Regions from separate parts of the Homo sapiens genome. Here region 1 is linked to region 2. The links come from fine-mapping of genetic effects on gene expression. A gene starts in region 2. The other region holds a variant in brackets. All regions are shown on one strand. Distances are from middle to middle. Region 1 overlaps LINC01722 (long intergenic non-protein coding RNA 1722). Region 2 holds the start of SPTLC3 (serine palmitoyltransferase long chain base subunit 3).

Region 1 (2,912 bases), 83 kb after region 2:
TTGAGTCATTAGTTTTCTTCCACACCCATGGAAATGACAGCTGGGTTGATTCCCAGTGTGTGTCAGGATGAAGCCTGGTCCCCTGTGGTGTTTAGTGTTCCTGAGGCCCTGAGCCCCCCGCAGAGGATGCATCAAGGGTGTAGTGACTGTTCGTGGGGCAGCGACATCCCAATAGACAGCATGCTTCTTTCTGCAAAAAATTGATTTCTCTGAGAAAAAGCATCGCACATCCAACCCAAAGCCAAGTCTCATTTCTTTCTCTTCCTCCTTCCCCCAGAGTTGTTGCATACCACAGCCTTGCACACATAAATACCTTTATTACACAGTTCTGTCTAATGAATGATAAATCAACTTATCTCCTATTCTACAAGGATGAACAGGAATGGTCTCACTGTTCATCTTCCTCCCAGGGTCCCTTCCTCAGGATGTCCTGCTTTCGTGTGTGTGTTTTATCCCCATAGGTCGGCTCAAGGAGAGGTTCTAGAAAGTGGGCACAGAAGTCCCTTCGGTTGGAAAACACTGGCTCCCATGACTCTGGTGGCTCAATGGCACAGTGAGAGACAGATAAGCATGGGCCTGAGCCTGCCTGTTTCCATAGGAGGCCTATAGCCCAGGCTGGTTCTGATGCTGTACATCCTGGAACAGACTGCATTTCTCTGAAGGAAACAGACCCAGAGAACAGAGGCACCATGCTCTCGGGTTCTCAGACAGTCTAAGCAGAGCAGGTCCCAGAGCCCAGAGCTACTGGACTGACCCCAGTCCTCTTGATGCCAGAGACAATATAGTCACTGCAAGAATTAAAGAAAGAGGAGAGAAACTTCAAGGGTGGCTTTACAGTCAACAGGGACAAGTTTATTTTAAATAAACCTGAGAGGGGCGGCTGGCCAAGCTAGGTCAGAGCCACACTCTCTTATGACCAAGAGTTTTTAAGAATTCAGGATAGGAGAGTTTATCAGAGGCTTGGATTGCTTCTGTGTCTCTTTGTTGTGCTTATCTGGGAAGGAGAGTTGTGTGTCTGTTCTCATATATCTTTCTGCAGCTGCAGGCATAGCCCCCTGAGTCTGCTTTTAGCTTCCCTATCTTAGTGCACCTGAAGGGAAAGGAATGTGCTTATTAAGGCCCACTGTTTTACTGGGGCCCGTTGTATGAGGGTGAACTTTGGCAGTTACCCAAGCGACTT[G/T]CCCCCTACTTTCCTCTGTGCCCGAGCTGTCTTATCTGTGTTTTACTGTCTGCTCTTTCTGGCTGCTTGTAGTTAGAAGAGAAGTGATTTCCTTGAAATGCATGAGGCTAGAAGGGGAGCTGGAGCTTAAAGTGGCGGTGTTTGTCTGAGATGACGGTGCTCCTGCTCTGTCAGTCTCAGCAGCATTTATTTCTTTTTCCTCCTCCTCTTTCTCCAGCAAAGGGCAGGTAGTTTAGTTGGTGGTTGCCTGGCCTCTCTTTAGCAAAACTCTAGCCCACTGCAAATCTCCCTGGGCAGTCGTGACTGGACGTGTGTTCACTGAGCCCCTGGGAGACAGGGCTGTGTCCTGAGTTCTGGGTCATCACGGCAGGCCCTGGAATTCAGCTCCGGGAGTACTGATCTCTGGCAAAAGCTATGTGCTTAAGGAAGGTGGACCCTCCCTAGGCCCAGGAGATGGATCTCACTAATCTAAACCAGTTATGGCATCCCTACTCCTCTTACTGCTGATGGTTTCAGGGACAGGCAGGTGACTGATTTCTGACCAGTCAGTTGTAAGTGTACATTTGCTGGTGTGTGTAGGGGGGGTGTCTGGAAAATTTTCACCTTTACAAAAATCCATGGGGAAAGAAAATCTGCCCATTTTTTGCCTTCACCAATGTGGTGAGAACATGATTCTTAGAGGTACTGCAGGCATCTCGTACCCAGGTGGGGTATCTTGTTCTCAAATGCCGATGCATTGGGGAAGACAGGTTGCAGCTGAGAAAGCAGTATTCACCCTTGAAAGTTCCCAGGGCTGCTGAGCCAACCTGAAATCGCCTTTATCCACCTTCCTGGGAGACAGGTTAACAGCATTCTCTCCTAGGGGTCACGGATCCTGGATTTTTTGTCCCTGTGTAGGAAGCGCCAACACATAGATACACTTGGCCTGAGAGAGGACAATGGCCTCCCAGGCTTGGGGACTGCAATGGGAAGGAAAGGGGGCTCTTCCTGAGACTTGGTGGAAGCTGCTATCAGCAGAGGCCCTTTGAATGCTCCAGTTACTCCATTGTTATTCATCTAGTGCCCACAATCCAAAAGATTATTCATTTGCTCAGAGCCGAAAGAGGAAATGAAATGGAAGGGAAGAAATGGGTTGGAGGCGCGGAAAAATGCACAAATGGCTAAGCTTAGGCTGACATCTTGTGGCTAAGCCCAAAAAAGGCACTTCACTAAGAAATGAACTGAGCAGCTGGGCAGCTCAGCAGGGGGGCAGCCTGCAGTCTGAAAACGGAACAGCAGCCTTTTAAATCCACTCTCACTTTTTCTTCATTCTCTTTTTTATTACATGTCAAATTTCTTCAGCAGTCTTTTTCTGTACTGTATAGCTATTAGAAAGAATATTTTAACTCTAATGACTACAGACTTAAATTTATTTCTGGCTAAAATACATTGTTATCTTGACTAATCCTGCTTCAAATTAAAACTGTTCACCCAAAATCAATTGATTATCTTTTTCTTTAAATTAGCAATGACATGCAATTGACTTGAGTAATCGTATAGTTTTCTACCTAGAAATTAATAAGCTGTGCCTCATATATTACATTTTTAATGACTAGGAAAACACCTTTTTCCCATTTTACACAGGTGGAAGCCAAGTGATGGCCAGGGTCACAGTGAGCAAATGGCAGATGGGATCTTGCATCCTAGTCCCTCAGAACCTACAGCCTGGAGGCGGAGTTAATGGTCACCACTT
Region 2 (2,912 bases):
GGAATGCTTTTGGGGACCACAGCCTGTTTACACACAACTCAGGCTCTAGAGCTCCTTTAGCCTCTTCCAATTGCACACACGAATGTAATTCACTGAGAGGAGGACTGGCCCCAGCCAGACCCACCTGTCCTGTGATCTTAGAACAATCTGCCTTTCCTGTGGGTGGATACTTGCTCTCTGGATGATCAAATGATGGAAGATTGCATGGGGCTCCCTGTGCCACTTCTCTTTCCAAACAGGAGGCTACCTGTTTGACTACTTGGGCTTGCTCCTCAGGCAGATGAGCTCACTTCTGCTGCTCAGAGCAGAGTGACACGGGATGTCCTGTGGGGAGTGGGGAACTGCCTTACATAAGGACCTCACAGACCCAGGCTCTCTCTTAAAACAAGCTGACAACTTTCCTCGAGTTCCTCCTGCCTAGGACACTCTGCAAACATCCCGGTGCAATAAGAGTGAAAAAAAAAAAAAGTGTCAAGTTGGAAAATACAAGTTTGTTTTAAAGATGCTGTTCTGTTTTCTGAGAGCAGTGTGTCACAATCAGCCCTGCTTTCTGAAGTGTTTTGGAAAAGAATGTCTGTGACGTCACATTTCAAAGAAATACTGTGGCCTCAAATCAAGTAGTGAGCTAAAACAATGCTCCACTACACACCAATAATAACTCGCCTTTCAAACAGTGATGCATTTCTCATGGACCTGGGAAGAATGCCATCTCCACCACATAATGTCAGCAAAATGTACTTTCACTTCCTCTTTTTCTTCTGAAGCATGACGGTTGTAGCAGGTCTCTTGGACAAAAATATATGCAAAGAGTTGGAACTTTCTTAATTCTTCCCTCCCCGCAAAATGCTTGAGACAAAAGTCTAGTAGGTACATTTGTATTTTAGGGAGCCTGAAGCTGTGTGAGTCTGTGTGTATCCTCTTTTGCATACAGAAGACATTTTCTCCTTAATCCACACCTAAACTTTTTGGTAGCCAAGCACTTTCTATTAACAGAGTCAACAGTCAAAACATGTAAAAACCCTTCATAAGATGAACTCTAAGTTAGGACAGCCTCAAATATCTTCACAGAGAAATATTGAAACGTTCAGGTAATTCAGAGAAGAGTAGGGGAGAGTGCCTCTTACCTGGGCTTCCTTCACTATTCCATTCTTTGTGCAGTTTCTGCTTTGTGAGCCATTGCTCTGTTTCTTGTGATTGTGAAGTTTCCCGTTGCAAACAGCACCACCTCCAGGGTTAGCCATGGGTGTGAAGTGACAGAGCCCGGGACAGGTTTTCCTTCAGAGGTCTCTGCAGGCTTTAGTTTTCAGTCTGCGAGGGGATGGGATAAAGCTCTTTGGGGCTGAGCCCTTAAAGGAATCTTACCAATCAGGCTTTTCCAGAAGAAGAGCAACAGCCTATCTTTTTGTCAGATCGTTGAAACTAAAACAAATGGTTACCTTTATACTTCTCAACTCCCGTCAAAATGTGAACTCCATGGCAACAAACCTGCTTCCGAAACTGTAAAGGAGATTGTCCATGCTGGCTCCTTCTGGGGACTGAGGGAACCTGGGGACTGAACAACCCAGTGGCAAAGTGTGAGGAGGCGGGCTGGGAGGTGGAGAGTCTTTTAAAGACACACACACACAGCACACTCACAGAGTCTTCTAAGTAACTGAGTTCTGAGTTAACCTCTTTTTCCCACCCCCTCTCTCCTGCATGTAATTGTGGTTTTTGGTTGTAAACCAAGCTCAAAAGTTAATATTTCTTTTTGCTATAAAATAGCATTCAGAGGTGGTTGCCAGGGCCTGGAGGGATGAGGCAAAGGGAAGTTATTGTTTAATGGGTACAGAGTTTGAGCTGGAGCAGATGAAAAAGGTATAGTGATGGATCAGTGCACAACAATGTGAATGTACTTAAACTAAACTGTGCACTTAAAAATGATTAAAATGGTAAGTTTCATGTGATGTATACATTTCCATAATTTACAAATGATTTGAAAAGATTTTTAAAAACCCAGTATTCAAAACCAACCTATGTTAAAATCAGTACTATAATAAGGGGGTACCAATCCATCAAGAATTCCAGTAAGACAGATGTTGAGGAGACAGAATATTTGATGACTGCGTTATCTTTATCTCGTGACCTTGGGGGAGGTATTTACCCACTTTATGCCTCAGTTTTTCCATCTATAAAATATCTGCTGAGGTAGAACAAAAATCATGCTGTAGCTTGGGTTTGTTACTGACGCAGGTGTGAGGTGGTTGATGACTGCAGGGTCCCAGTCCTGAAACACATCTGGTTTACTCACTAACTCTTATTCTCTCAATGCATGAATCTTCAAGGCTTTGTTTCTTCCTACCATCATCAAATGGCATGGTGACATGATTTGCTGGAGAGTCATTACAACCTGTTGAGTCTTCCCAAGTCCACCCTTGTGGTTTTCCTGAGTCGAGACTTCTTTAGCATCAGACTCTAAGAAAAGAAACCAATTTATTGGGGCAGTAGACAAAAACAAACAATCAAACACACACACACAAACAAAAAGAAAGAAATGGCCCCTGTTTCCAGAGCCTCATGTCCTGTAACTCAGCTCCCTTGGACAGGGTTCAGTTCTACTCCAGATTAATGTAGCTTTTGGAGGTGGACATGCTAACGCTTCTCCTAACTATGACTTGCATATGAGGGTACCTGCCTTTACCATCCCAAGGAATGCTGGAGGAATAAGATAAGGCCTGAGGCCAAGGTGAAAGACGGAGTTAATACCAAGTGTGTTCAGCCCAGTTTGTGTCTCAAGTTCAAAAATTTTATCGCATTTCTCTCAACCTTTATCATCAAAGTAGAAGTAGATTTTCACTGGTCTCTCCCTTCCATGGCTGTTTCACTGAGATTTGGGGGCTAAACTCTTGTAGGTTTATTTTCTTCTAAGATTTAGG

The links. PIP is the estimated chance that this variant, and not a neighbour inherited with it, causes the effect.
Region 1: its variant is fine-mapped to the expression of SPTLC3 in whole blood (TOPMed, PIP above 0.99).

Annotation. Positions count from the first base shown.
Region 1 is chr20:12,924,800-12,927,711 of GRCh38, reverse strand. LINC01722 (long intergenic non-protein coding RNA 1722) reads left to right here. Exons shown (of 12, transcript NR_109868.1): 5 at 2,804-2,912. Among named protein-coding and RNA genes, the nearest start is that of LINC01723, 24 kb to the left of the region's middle. RefSeq lists a silencer at 994-1,194. The variant G/T (reference allele first, on the strand shown) is at 1,181.
Region 2 is chr20:13,007,597-13,010,508 of GRCh38, reverse strand. SPTLC3 (serine palmitoyltransferase long chain base subunit 3) reads right to left here and starts at 1,537. Exons shown (of 12, transcript NM_018327.4): 1 at 1,125-1,537. The coding sequence starts at 1,241.